Homo sapiens: one gene and its partner. The protein of the gene in region 1 interacts with the protein of each later gene in a pairwise test. Each region holds a gene or a part of one and is shown in the gene's direction. Other genes may lie near its edges.

Region 1 (7,515 bases):
AACATACGTTTTTCTTTTGTGAAATAGGACAATTGCAAGGAGAGGTGACAAAAGATAAATTTTAATCCAGATAGATACATTTTGGGGAGAAGTACATATAGAGGTAGAGGACTTGGAAAATAATTCCCTTAAAACTATACATATATTCCCCTGGAAAATGTCTAATGTATTCTCAGGGATTGACTCCTCCAGTTTGAAGACTGCTGAGGTATATGATAACCAGCTACATGGTTAGAAAGATCTTTCCGCTACTGAAATAATGAATTGAAAGAGGCTCCCCATCCTACATCTGTTTCACTACATTTCTGTTCTCTCTTGAGTATGTAGGTTAGGATAAATCTATTTTCTATTGACGATACTCCGAATATTTTAAGAGGCTATGCTACATTCCCCACATCTTTCCATCTCTAAGATTAGTATTCCCTTCTCCTTGAATTGCTTATCTATCATTGTTTTCAGTCCCTTCATCTTTCTAGTCATCTTCCTGTAAAGGACACTAATACTTATCAAATTTTTTTCTGAATTTTGATGTCCAAAACAATATAATGCTTCTATTGCCAGGGATAAAATGTCAATCTTAGTAATTTTCTTTATAATGTAATGGGCTACTATTTATTGAATGCTTGCTATATGCTCAGTGCTTAAAATAGCACTGCAAAAAATGATTCTATTATTCCCATTTTGCAGATGAGAAGACTGAACTAGAATAAAACTAGATAACTAGAACAAAGTCAAGAACTTCACTCGACCTTTATTATTTATTTACTGGGTGGGGCAGTAGTTAATAGTAACATGACAACATATAAGCATACCTCTGTAGGTATGCAGGGGCCCAGACTGGAGGAGATATAAGATTAGGCAAAATGTCAAAATCAGCTAAACATTCTCTGGAAAAGTCCCTGTAAATCTAAGAGGAGCCTGGCATATATCATGCTGCACTGTGATTTAGAATGACCTGCCTTAGTCAAACTAGACTTTGTTCAGTCCAAGGGAATCTGTGGAGATCCTGTAGACTGCTCCTGGTTGGAAGGAAGGACCTGAACCATGGGGATTTCCCATCTTCCCTCCTACACTTCAACCAAGCATCTCTGCTTTTCTCTAGCTTTACATAATTACCCCAATCAGAAGTAGACAGAGGTAAAATAAAAATAAAAATAAGTAAGTGTGTTTGAAAGAGAGAAACAGAAAGGGAAAGAGAGAAAAGCCATTAGTCATGAAAAGTAGTCATAAAAAGAATTCTGACTTTGGAATCAGTTTACCTGTGTTTCAGCCCAATAATATATGTGGTAATATACTTCTCAGTGGGTTACTTAGACATTGTCTTTAAACACTCTGAGCTTTAGTTTTTTCACATTTCTTATAGCAGGTACTCAGATTTTTGTTGAACAAATGAGTAAATGAATAATTTTGTATTTTGGCAAAAATAACCTTACGAGGTTGTAGAGAGGATTAATGCTAATATAGGGTTTACTATAGCCTGGTACATAGTAGGTGTTTTGCAAATAAGGATAATAGCTATTATTATTATTGATTCAATGCTGCTTAGATTTAGGTACAGGTGCCCATGTGGCACTTTTATCTAAGTTAGATCGAGATTCTTCATTAAACTTGAAAGCAAATATTAAATGCTCTTAAATATTTGGAACATGCTTATGTCCAGAGGGGCTTTCCCATTACAAGGGAAGATTATAGGAATCTCAGGAGCTTCTTGGTTCTCTACTCTTGGGAGTGTGGCTTGTGAAGTTTGGTGGCGAAAATAGTGGCAACAATGGTGTTGTCTGGAAGAAGCCTTGCCATTCAGCCAGATGTGCCAAAAATCATGTGGCAACTCAGTGGGATCAATTCCTGCAGTCCAAGAGGTGCCCATATTTGCTGTCATTGCTCTTCCTTGGGTTTAAAACACACTACCCAATGACATCCAAATCTACGTATTTAGTACATTTGTCCTCTGGGTAAGAATAAATTATGAACCTACTGCCTATTCTTGAAAGAGAAAAGACAAAAAAGGGTACTATGCTTTTGATCTGAAAACTAATGTCTTTAATCTACCTAAATCATTGCTAGTTAAATACCATTTTCTGGTGAATCACATTTATCTGCTGTAGAGTATAAGTTCTCCAGATTAAGATCTTGTCTTTTCATAGGGTGTATAAAATAATGCACACAGCTTTAGCACTCCTGGTATAACAGATGGCTATCATTTGTAACAAAAGAATAACATTGGAAGCCTTCTGACATGTCCTAGAAGCTTGGTGTGCAAGAAGAATCCCATTACATACATATTGTAATCCCATTACAACATGTTGTAAAGGTATATTCCCCATAGGGAAAGCCCAATAACTAATTCCTTCAAATCTAGAAAACAGACGACTGAGAGTTAATTTTTTTTTTTTTTTGAGATGGAGCTTCACTCTTGTTGCCCAGGCTGGAGTGCAATGGCACAATCTTGGCACACTGCAACCTCTGTCCCCCAGATTCAAGCCATTCTCCTGTCTCAGCCTCCCGAGTAGCTGGAATTACAGGTGCCTGTCACCATGCCCGGCTTTTATTTATTTATTTATTTATTTATTTATTTATTTATTTATTTATTTTGTTATTTTTAGTAGAGACAGGGTTTCACCATGTTGGCCAGGCTGACCTCTAACTCCTGACCTCAGGTGATCCACCTGCCTCAGCCTCCCAAAGTGCTGACATTACAGGCATGAGCCACCGTGCCTGGCCAAGAGTTAATTCTAATTGCATAAAAATTCTTTGCTTTACAAAATAACATTTTTTAAAAAATTTTTTATTTTTTGCTAAAGAGTCTCTTGAAATAGCCAGATCTCTTTTTGGAGAATCCAAAATTGGATTTGCTTTACAAAATGTTTATTAGACTCAACTTTTCAGGAGCAAAGCGAGTGTGAAAAAATGGGACATTGCCTGTCAGGCATCAATGGTAAAGTGTCACTTAGTCACAGCGTAAAAAATAAATAAATAAATAAAAAGGCTCACCATTCCATCCCCTAAGCCCACCAAAGTCAAATTGTCCAAATGTGGCAGGTGGCTATTGCAGGCATCTGGTGCTCTCATTCCAGTCAGGAAGGTGAGGCTAGCATTGGGGTGGGGGCGGGGGGCAGACATCAGTAACTGTATGACCCTAAACACAGAGTCCGAAGAAGGGACCCCCAGATTACAGACAGCCTTTCCTCCACATATCAGACCCTCTTTCTTTACAAATACAGCAAATACAAGCAGATAACTGGGCATCAGTCATTTCTGATGCATTGCAGGAAAGAGCAACAACATACACTGTATCATTCAATTTATCAAGTAAACTACAGGCACTGTGCTAGACTCAAAGATAGAAAAGAAGACAGGGAGCAAAGAAGAAAACGCACGTTTAGTAAGACACCTGAGTGCCTTCAAAGACCATGCAATGTCTTTAGGTACTGTTCCCAGCTAGCTTCTCCAACAGAAAAATGAGCATACTCCATTTCAAAGCTGGATTCTGTAACCAAATGCACTATTCATATTTTTCCAAGGCTCCTAAACCAATAGTTAACTAGTCTCTTCCAAGATTTAGGGAGGCTGTTGAATTCTTTTCTGGAAGTTCTATGTATTTTGCTAAAAGTTGTGCTCCAAACACTTTACCAAGAATTAGGGTCAATGAAGGGGTACTTTGTGCAAGCTACAAATACTTGGAATTTTCATAAGGCAGTTCATTTCTGCCTTCCTGTGAATAATTTCATATTTCTTCCTTGTAAGACTAGGGTTTGTGTGCTCATGAGTGTCTAGATTGTCAGAATAGAAGGAGTGTTTAATACATTGAGTGGGTCTGGGGCCTGGAGATGAAGATGTGAGGGATGCAAGAAGGAGGATCTTGAATCAGATGGAGCGAAAGATAACTTGGAAACTCCAGTGGAGAAAAATGGCTAATTTGGATTGTTTAATTTGTTCAGGTTTGTGTTTTGGGTTCTGTCACACTTATGTTGAGAAACGTCCCTGCCATCTCTCTAATGCACGCAGTTTATGTTCAGAAACGGGCAGCACAGAGAGGAATTAGCGGTGGGGGAAATTTTCATCACCACCGGTGATGTGTGCACCGATGGTAGATGGCTATCCAGAGTGTAAAAATGTGATTCTGGGACCAAAGGGTCAGCTCTAGAACGAAATCAGACAGCTGGAGAACTGAAGATTCAACTCTTCCTAGGCAAGAGAGTGAGAAAGGTGGGTTGCTTGCAGGGTGGAGGTAGGGGTTGCTCCTCCTAGTTCCTGGGCTGGAGAAGGGCAGGGAACTGGGAAGTGTGTGTCAGAGGCTCGCTATGCTAGGACAAGGTGTTGGGGTACTAGGGTGGGTGGGGGCCTGAGGGGTGGCTTGGAGCCCTGGCGGTGGCTGCCTGACGTCACCGGCCTCTCTGGCAATAGGCTGCGAGCTCAGCTCCCTGAAGCGGCGGCGAAGGCGGCGGCGGCGGCGGCGGCGGCGGCAGCAGCGCGGCTCGGTCTCTGGTCCATTCACTCCACGCTTTCTGCAGCCGCCACTGCAGCCGCGCGGCGGGGGCTCCCTCCTTGCAGCCAGCCGGCGGTCCAGGTAAGAGACAAGGTGTGAGTAAAGGCTTCTGATGGCCGGGTGGCCTGACGGCCAGGTGCGAGTGGGGAGGACAGCTCACGCGGCCTGAGCAGCCACCCCTGGCCATAGCTCCAGCCCCCGCCCCTGCCCCCGGCCCCTGCCCTGGCTTGCTTGCGCGCTACCTCGCTACTCCGCAGTGCAACAGTTTGCAGCTGCCTCTTGGGAGCAGCAAGGAGGCTCTCCTGTGCGCTGCGGGTCTACCGGCTCCAGTATGCCGGAAAAGCCTCGGGGCCTTTGGGCTGGGTCTGGGAAGGACAGAAAGAAGGTCCCGTTCCCCAAACTTTGCAGGCGGGAACCCTCCCCTTTCCATTCCAGCTCCTCTAGAAAGAAGCAGGCTACTGCCAAGTTGGGGGCACAGGGAAATGGGGAGGAGGGGGCCGTTTGTGGGAATGTGTCAGCTGAGAAAGATGCTTCAGCTGCTTTTTTTTTTTTTTTTTTTTTTTTTTGGAGAGGGGAGAATACCAGGGAAGAAGGCTGGAGAAGAGATGGAGCGCGTTCCTGCGCGTCAGCCGCGGTCGCGGACAGAGGCAGAGTGGGATGTGGTGCCAGGGGTATCCCCCTGGGAATGGGACCCAAGGGATCTGACGCTGTCCAGGGAGGGCGAGTCTGGACGGGGAGGGAAAGGAAGGGAGGACTGCGTACCCGGAGCCCGCGCGGCGGCCCGGAGTGGGTGCTGGGAAGGGTAGGATCCAGGCGAAGACATCAACCGAGAGGGCGCAGAAAAGAGGAGAGCCGGCGCTCTGGGAAGTAGGGACTTCAACCAAAGCGGCTGCGTGTCTGTTGCAATTATAAAGTTGTGAAGGGCGGAAGGGAGGCTGCCTTATCTGCTGAGTAATCTGCACCTCCGCGGTGCCGGCGCAGACCCCATCCTGTCGAGTGGCATGAGCAGGCTGCTGGTGGCTCTGGTGCACGGCCACGGGCCGGCAGGCTGGGGTCCGCTGACCGAAAATACAGGCAGCGCCCAGCTCAGGCAGTGTGCCCAGAGGGCCGCTTTGCGGTGGTGGTTGATCTTTCCCGACAGCACTCCCCTGGGCAGCGGCCGAGATTCTAACTAAGCTTTGTGTCTTTGCAGCCTGGTGCCTCTGCAAAGGAAAGGGGAGCGTGGAGACGTGTTCGAGGTGGTATCGGCGAGGATCTCTCGGGCGCCGCTCACTCCTTGGTCGCCTTGCTTGCCAGCAGTTGCTCCCTTAGTCCTTGGCTCGCTCGCACACCCCCTCCCGCTACAGGGAGCAGTTTTGGGTGGCGTGGGCTCCGTCCTCTTCTTGGCTGGTAGGAACGGTGTGCCCAAGAGGGGAAGCCTAGTGGGCCTGGCCCCTCCCAGCCCCGCGCCAATGAGTGCCAGGGCGCCGAAGGAGCTGAGGCTGGCGTTGCCGCCGTGTCTCCTCAACCGGACCTTTGCTTCCCCCAACGCCAGCGGCAGCGGCAACACGGGTGCCCGCGGCCCAGGCGCAGTAGGCAGCGGCACCTGCATCACGCAGGTGGGACAGCAGCTCTTCCAGTCCTTCTCCTCCACGCTGGTGCTGATTGTCCTGGTTACCCTCATCTTCTGCCTCATCGTGCTGTCCCTCTCCACTTTCCACATCCACAAGCGTAGGATGAAGAAGCGGAAGATGCAGAGGGCTCAGGAGGAATATGAGCGGGATCACTGCAGCGGCAGCCGCGGTGGCGGGGGGCTGCCCCGACCTGGCAGGCAGGCCCCAACCCACGCAAAGGAAACCCGGCTGGAGAGGCAGCCCCGGGACTCTCCCTTCTGCGCCCCTTCCAACGCCTCGTCGTTGTCCTCTTCGTCCCCTGGCCTCCCGTGCCAGGGTCCCTGTGCTCCTCCGCCTCCACCGCCAGCCTCCAGTCCCCAAGGAGCACACGCAGCTTCCTCCTGTTTGGACACAGCTGGCGAGGGCCTTTTGCAAACGGTGGTACTGTCCTGATCGTCTAGCCCCTCTCGTTCCCCGTCCTCGTTTCCAGCATCTTTGCCACCCTTGCTTTTTTCCTTCTTCCTTCCTTTTCCATTTTCCTCTGGCCCCTCTTTCCTCTTCCTGGTTTCCTTACCTGCCCTCCCCTTACTCTTGTTTCTCCTCCGCCGAGGCACTGTGCGGTATTTGTAAATATTGGGCGAGGAAAGTCTCGGAAGAAGAAATAACGCTGATAATAATACTTTATTAATATTTATAGTAATTATTATAATACTAATAACACAATCCAAGCGCATGACAAATCACATAATTTCTAACTGTCAATGGAGGATGCATCTTCCCATTCCACCCCGCGCTCCCCTCAATTAGGAGGAGAAACCGCACAAGCTACCAAATATATAAAAGGCATTGATTCCCGGAGCAAAGGGAGGGGAGGGGGCCCGGTAATGTACATAGCTGTCAAGTTAAGATTTAGTTTCCTTCCTTCCCCTCTGACCCCTAAGCTTTCACTTTTCCTTTAGCTTCCCTTTCCTCCCCATTCCCACCCTCAGCCGGGCTCAGGCAATAGTATATTATAAAGAAAATGTCTACATTAAGCACCAGGACTGCAAGAGGCCATAGAGAATAGTCCCCGGAAAGTGTTTATGACAGGTACCCCTCGCCAGTCCGCCCATTTCTCACCCTTTGGTTAACCATTACATTTTCCAGGACAGAGCATTTAATTTACTTTTTAAAATGACCCTCGCTGGCCGAGCATAAGTACGTTAAAATCTTTAAATGAGTTTTTTTTAAAAAGCTAACGCTTTCATTCCCTGCCCCGCCCCCACCCGTACACCTTTGACTTGTGACATTTTCAGGATTTACAAAGGATCTGGGAGCTGTCCAGCCAGGTCTGGTGCTGAAGTCGCCTCACCGTTCTGATTACTTCCTCTAGTTGTGAAGGCAGAGGAGGGGCTGTTTTGGAAAGTGACTATTCTGGCTTTTGGTTGGGTTCTTTCT
Region 2 (7,026 bases), on another chromosome or scaffold:
CTTTGATGACTACTAATCCCTTTAAATCTCCTGTTGTCCCTACAAAACAAATGGGGAACCTAGTAGGACTGGGGACTGAATTATTCCCAATTACTGCCTGAAATTTTTTCTAAATAGAAGGACTAGTCTTTTTTAGAGTTTGGCAAAAGAAAGTTTCAAGCCTTCTTTCATTCTTGATTTAATAGCAATTTCATTGTGATGACCACTTTACCAGATGAAAATGGCCCTTTGTCATTTGTTCATTGAGCAAATGTTGGGAAGTTTAGGACCAAGTGTCATGAAAATATAAATCAAGCAAAAAAAAAAACAACATTTCCCTCAAACAGTTTATTACTTAGTAAAGGGGCTAGACTATATATATATATATATATATATATATATATATATATATATATATATATATATATAAAATACAACTACTACACAGGTAAAATAAGTGTCCTAAGAAGGGAAGATCAAGTGCCAAGGAGAGGTAGAAAAGAAAAAGTCCCTCCCCTGCCAAAGCCAACAGATTTCTGCAGAGGAATGTGAGGTAAAGCATGTACAGCACTTGGCATATGGCATTTGTTCAATAAACCTGATTGTATTGCCATTATTTTTGGTGTTATGACATAGCGAATAGAAAAACCATCATAAGCAAAGATGGAGGTGGGTAAATGTGGTGTATCACAGAGAAGAGCAGTTCAATGTGACTCAAGAACAAGAAGAAAGAAGAATGTATGAAGGGGAGTTCTAGGAAATCCCTTGAAAAGTAATTGGTCATGGAAACATGGATTTAAAAAAGGAAAGTAATTGGGATCAAATCAGGAAAAGTCTTTGATGCAGTTTGAATATTTGTACCCACTCAAATCTCATGTTGAAATGTAATCCCCAATGTTGGATGTTGGAGGTGGGGTCTGGTGGGAGGTAGTCGGATCATGGGGATGAATTCCTCATAAATGGTTTAGTGCTATCCCGTTGGTGCTGTCCTTATGATAGTGAGTTCTAGTGGGATCTGACCATTTAAAAGCATGTAGTATCTCCCTACCCTTCACTTGCTCCTGCTTTCACCATGTGACATGTCTGTTTCTCCAGAGGGTACAAGCCATAAACCTTGGTGGCTTCTACATGGTGTTAAGCCTGCAGGCATACAGAGTGCAAGAATGAAGAATGCTTGGCACCCTTCACCTAGATTTCAGAGGCTGTATGAGAAAGTGTGGGTGTTCATGCAGAAACCGGCTGCAGGGGTGGAGCCCCCAGAGAGTACCTCTACTAGGGCAGTGTGGAGGTAAAATGTGGGGTTGGAGCTCCCACACAGAGTCCCCACAAGGACACTGCCTAGTGCAGCTGTGAGAAGGGGGCCACCATCCTCCAGACCCCAGAATGATAGACCCACTGGCAGCTTGCACCCTGGGCCTGGAAAACCACGGGCACTCAACAACCTGTGAGAGCAGCCACAGGGGCTGAACTCTGCAAAGCCACAAGGGTGGAGCTATCCAAGTCCTTGGGAGCCCACCCCTTGTATTGGTGTGCCCTGAATGTGGGACATGGAGTCAAAGGAGATTATTCTGGAACTTTAAGATTTAATAACTGCCCTGCTGTGTTTCAGACTTGCCTGGGGCCTGTAGCCCATTTGTTTTGGCCAGTTTCTCCCTTTTGGAATGGGAATGTTTACCCAGTATCTATACCCCCATTTTATTTGGGGAGTCAATAAGTTGTTTTGATTTTATAGGCTCATGGGTGGAAGGGACTTGCCTTATTTCAAATGAGACTTTGGACTTGGAACTTTTGATTGAGTTTGTGCTGGAATGAGTTAAAATTTGGGGAACTATTGGGAAGATATAATTGTATTTTGCAATGTGAGAAGGACATGAGATTTTTGGGGGGCTAGAGATGGAATGATATGGTTTGAATATTTGTCCCTGCCAAAATCTCATGTTGAAATGTAATTCCCAGTGATAAAGGTGGGGCCTGGTGGGACATGACTGGATCATGGGAGTGAATTCTCATGAAGGGTTTAGCACCATTCTGTGGTGCTATCTTCATGATAGTGAATGAGTTCTCACAAGATCTGGTCATTTAAAAGTGTGTGGCACCTCCCATCTCCTCGCTTGCTTCTGCTTTCACCATGTGACATGCCTATTCCACCTTTGGCTTCTCCCATGATTGAAAGCTCCTCGATGCTTCACCAGAAGCTGGAAGATGCCAGCACTGTGCTTCCTGTAAAGCTACAGAACCATAAGCCAATTAAACTTCTTTTCTTTATAAATTACCCAGTCTCAGGTATTTCTTTACAGCAATGCAAGAACAGTCTAATGCAGTCTTTAATAATAGGCTACAGAGTTTGGATTTCATCCTTTAGAGTCTAAAGTTTAGATATAATTGTTTCTCCTTTCCACCACAGATCACTTAGGAAAATGGCTGTTGGTATGATCCTAGCATGCCTGGCATTTGCAGTTGCGGCAGCTGTAGAGATAAAAATAAATGTGAGTTCAGTAATTCTTAAGCTCTATGAGGGCAGGATCATATCTTTCTTATTTGCTCTTTTGACTTGTTCAGTCATGATTCCCTGGGACCTAGCACAGTACCTGTTTTATAAGAGGTGCATCATAAGTATTTGTGATAAATAAGTAGATACAGGGGTAAAACAGCAATGCAAAATGAGGCCCACCTCCCACCTGAGTGACTCAGAATGTATTTTCAGGGAATTCTCAAACACTAATATCCAAGAGAGCCCTCTCCTTAGGGAACACAGGCTTATGTGATGCCTTTCTACATACTCAAGTAAAAACCTTTTGGCAGATTGAATAGCCACTATTACGGATGAGGCCACAGCTGAGTCAAAAAGCATCGAGTTTGTAAGCTGGCATTGGTACTTGCTACAATGAGCTGATGTTTCCCTCTCCAAGCTGCCTTTAGAGTTTTCTAAGCCAAATATTTTTCAGAGGGAGAAAACTATGTCTACTTGGCTAGTGGACTAGGCTGTCAGAAACAACTGAGATATGTGTTGCCATTGTATCTGAAGGATTATTTGTTGGTGATTCTGACATGTGTTCTTTGCTCTAAGGAAATGGCCCCAGCCCAGCCAGGTCCCCAGGAGGTTTTCCTACAAGTCTTGAATCTGGCAGATGATGAGGTGAAGGTGACAGTGGTGGGAAATGAAAACAATTCTCTGTTGATAGAGTCCATCAAATCCTTTCAGGTGAGGTGTGTACCTGAATGAATTAGAAACTCTGTATGCTATATTGATCTTGATTTTTCCTTAACATTAATTGTATCATAAGCATCTTCCCATGTCTTTAGATAATCTTTGAGCACATGATTTTAATGGGCATATAATATTCCATTCTATAGATATACCATAGTTTATTTAGACATTTCCACATAGGTATTCCGTTTTTATTATTATACATAATCCTACAATGAACATTCTTATTCATAAATATTTATGCATGGCTCTGATTATTTCTTAGGGTAAATTCCAAGAAATAAAATGGCTAGGTTAAAGAAAGGAATTACTAGGTTGAAAGTGTCTGATGAGGTCACCTACCCTGAGATGCTACATCGTGATGTCCAATATGCAGTAGAAGGTGTACGTGACCTTCATTTTATATTCTTCATTTTACAGAAAACACCACACTATTCCAAACTGCACCTGAAAACAAAAAGCCAGGATTTTCACTTCCACCTGAAATATCACAATTTGTCTCTCTACACTGAGCATTCTGTGCAGGAGAAGAACTGGTACAGTCTTGTCATTCGTGAAGATGGGAACAGTATCTCCAGCATGATGGTAATTTGAGGAATTGCCTGTGTTTTCAGTTGTCATCTCAAAGTAATATGACTGTCTCATCAACATCTTACCAAGGATCTGCCTGATGATCAAATTTTCTGAGTATAGGTCTTATTTCATCAGCTGTTACTGATTTTTACTTTCCTCTGTTGTAGGTAAAGGATACAGAAAGCAGAACAACCAATGGGATGACAACCGTGAGGTTTGAATGTCAATGAGATTCCAGGCCACTCTGTTTTCTTGAATCTTGGATCTCTTCTAATCTTTGGGGCTGCATTCTACTTGTTCTGAACAGGAATTCCCTCTCGTAGAATGCCAGGGGCACTGGTGTCAAAAGGCATTTTCTAGGACAGTGAGAGGCAGATAGGCTTCTTTTCTCATGTGGGATTCGAAGATGACTCTATCTGTGTATGCCCCCTGTACTCTGGGGCATAAATCCTTTCTGCTGAATTTTATCTATTTATCTTGCTCTCAGGAAAATAACTGAGTACTTTTCTCTCTGTGATCGCCAGAGAGAAATTTGGAAGTGAGAAAATAATCCTCCCTTCATTTTTGATAGTTGAATATATATCTTTTAAAGTATAGTTTTTATTATAAGCCTGTAGAGGCATCATGGTATAGCACACATTTGGAGTCAAAAGACTTAGTTTTGAATCCAGATAAGGCTGAAGGGTCTTGTCAAATGGTGAGGGACAGTTACAGAGATGGAGTACCCAAGAGGACATGTGTTCTCTGTGGCTGGTATTAGATATGAAATGGACAGATACACAGGTCTATGGCCACCAAGGTCAAGTGGTTGCTGTTGAGAATAGCATTTTAGTGGAGAACTTTTAGTGAAAAGTCTGGATTTCACTGAAGGTTGGGACAGTCATAATAACTTGCTTTTGAATATGCTTCAAAAAAAGTAAACAGCTCAAAATAAGACAATGTGAGGTCAGAGAGCCATGGGCCCCCAGAAGGGGCATTTTCTAGGTCAGTGTAGAATGATCTAAAGTCTAGGAATCAACATTCAGGACTCTAAAGGGAAATGTCCTTCTTATTCCTGGGGCCAGAGACCAAATCAAAAGCTATCAAAACAGAAATGTACCAAAACCCATCCTGAGAGGACAATCTAGGTGCCAGGTTCAGAAAAATAGAAAGATGGTCTTGGAAGGGTCCAAAGTTTCTGCAGACTCCAAAACAATTATAATAACCTACTCTGGGCTGGGAGTCTGAGTTTTGCATAGGTCACATTGGACTTCATTTATAAGAGGATAAGATATCAGTTTTATGTAAATACTATCATATCTTTATATATGCATAATTATCTTATTTTTCTTAGTAAAGTCTCAGTTGATAGATTCCACCATTATAAGGGAAATAAATTAGATGCACCTAAGCTGGATTAGTGAGGAAACTCAGATTTCCATGAATGATCATGATAGTGTCCGTCTAGCTAGAGGTCTGGTGAGGATGTGGCAGATAAAAGTTCAAGAAAAAGAAACTTAGGGACAGCTAAGACTATGGATTACTTTTTACGTGTGGGTTCATTCGTCTAGTTAACAATATACATTAGGTACCTTTTATGTGCCAGCCACTATCCTAGGCACCTGGGCACTGGGGATATAGTTATACCCAAAACATAAAAGGCCCCTAACCTCTTTTATCAGGTGTTCCTGTTTGTTTGATATGTAAATAATATCTCTACCCTCAGGTTTGTTAACACTTTGCATAAAGATGTCAACATCTCCCTGAGTACAGATACCTCTCTCAATGTTGGTGAAGACTATGGTGTGTCTGCTTATAGAACTGTGCAAAGAGGAGAGTAAGTGCATTGCCCCTGTGGACATTTTACTTTTGTCAATAATTGTTTTTTAAGTGCTATCTTTGTATATAGGTGGGGAACTTAGGTGCATGTGGTCTAATTTTGAGTATAGACGCACTACTGATCTTTTCCAACTCTTGCTTCCTTCCCTCAGTCTCACTTTTTTTCTGCACAGATATGTTGAGATCACGATTGCCGTGAAGACCACACTATATAGTTAACACAGCCCATCTCTGTATAGTTAACACAGTCCGTCTCTGTGAGTTTCTCAAAGTTTATTATTGGTTTCCATTTCTACTAAAGAAGGTACTTTGGTACCTTACACTGGCACTTCATTACTTAGAGCTTATCTTCTCAGGTTCACTGTTATAGCCTGTTCTACTAAGTCATAAGATTTGCATGAGGAAAATTCACATGGTACTTAAGTTAACAAAAGAATATGATTTGTAACTTCTTTATTTAGGTTGAATATTTTAGAAAATACCTGACAAGCAATAAAGAGCTCAAATCAGGGACAGAAGCCTGGCATGAAAATAACCTACTCCAAGAAACATTTCTCTTCAAAGATAATTAGTGGCTTCACTGCTTTCCTCACCATCAGTAGAGAGATGAGATCACTTTCACCTGGAGATGGGAATGCTTTTCCAAGCCTTGATATTTATTCTAACCTAAATTCATCCTGTTCCAGATACCCTGCAGTGCACTGTAGAACAGAAGATAAGAACTTTTCTCTGAATTTGGGTCTTCTAGACTTTGGTGCAGCATATCTGTTTGTTATTACTAATGTAAGTAGCTCACAGCCACCTCTTTACCCTCTCTCCATATACATATATCTCCTGAGATCCTCTAGGCAGGGGCAGAAAACAAAAGAGAAGACTCTGTGGCAAAGCAGACACGTATATTTATTTCTAGCATAAGATGACAGGTTCTACAGTGACTTTAATTATTTTTATTTTTATTTTTTTTGAGACAGAGTTTCGCTCTCATCGCGCAGGCTGGAGTGCTGTGGCACCATCTCGACTCACTGCAACCTCTGCCTCCCGGGTTAAAGTGATTCTCCTGCCTCAACCTCCCCGAGTATCTGGGATTACAGGCACCCACCACCACCATGCCCAGCTAATTTTTGTATTTTTAGTAGAGATGGGGTTTTGCCGTGTTGGCCAGGCTGGTCTCAAACTCCTGACCTCAGATGATCCACCAGCCTCAGCCTCCCAAAGTGTTGAGATTACAAGCGTGAGTCACCGCACCTGGCTCTACAGTGACTTTAGAAAGCCCACTGTCTCTGTAGGGGTTGTTAAGAGATAACATCAACAACAAGCAAAGGGTCTTGGGGAAGGAGAAACATAATTTATCTTGAGCCATCACTGTGAGATGCCACAGCTTGCTCCAGTCTTTTTATGTCTCCAATCAAACACAAGTTATTTATGAAAAAGTACTAATGTCTTCTTGG

Evidence for each region. The genes of interacting proteins can lie anywhere in the genome.
Region 2: the proteins of C11orf87 (region 1) and SLC15A2 interact in binary tests that used the Homo sapiens proteins (3 or more experiments, as listed by UniProt).

Annotation. Positions count from the first base shown.
Region 1 is NC_000011.10:109,417,697-109,425,211, forward strand, and holds the start of C11orf87 (uncharacterized protein C11orf87 precursor), read left to right. Parts: upstream 1-4,493; 5' UTR 4,494-4,567; intron 4,568-4,741; exon of another isoform or gene 4,742-4,871; intron 4,872-5,082; exon of another isoform or gene 5,083-5,171; coding exon of another isoform or gene 5,172-5,353; intron 5,354-5,678; coding exon of another isoform or gene 5,679-5,937; coding exon 5,938-6,531; 3' UTR 6,532-7,515.
Region 2 is NC_000003.12:121,925,375-121,932,400, forward strand, and holds part of SLC15A2 (solute carrier family 15 member 2), read left to right. Parts: intron 1-2,383; coding exon 2,384-2,465; intron 2,466-3,046; coding exon 3,047-3,181; intron 3,182-3,607; coding exon 3,608-3,772; intron 3,773-3,927; coding exon 3,928-3,974; intron 3,975-5,465; coding exon 5,466-5,576; intron 5,577-5,751; coding exon of another isoform or gene 5,752-5,797; exon of another isoform or gene 5,798-6,258; intron 6,259-6,264; coding exon 6,265-6,361; intron 6,362-7,026. UniProt on the Homo sapiens protein: Proton-coupled amino-acid transporter that transports oligopeptides of 2 to 4 amino acids with a preference for dipeptides. Transports neutral and anionic dipeptides with a proton to peptide stoichiometry of 2:1 or 3:1.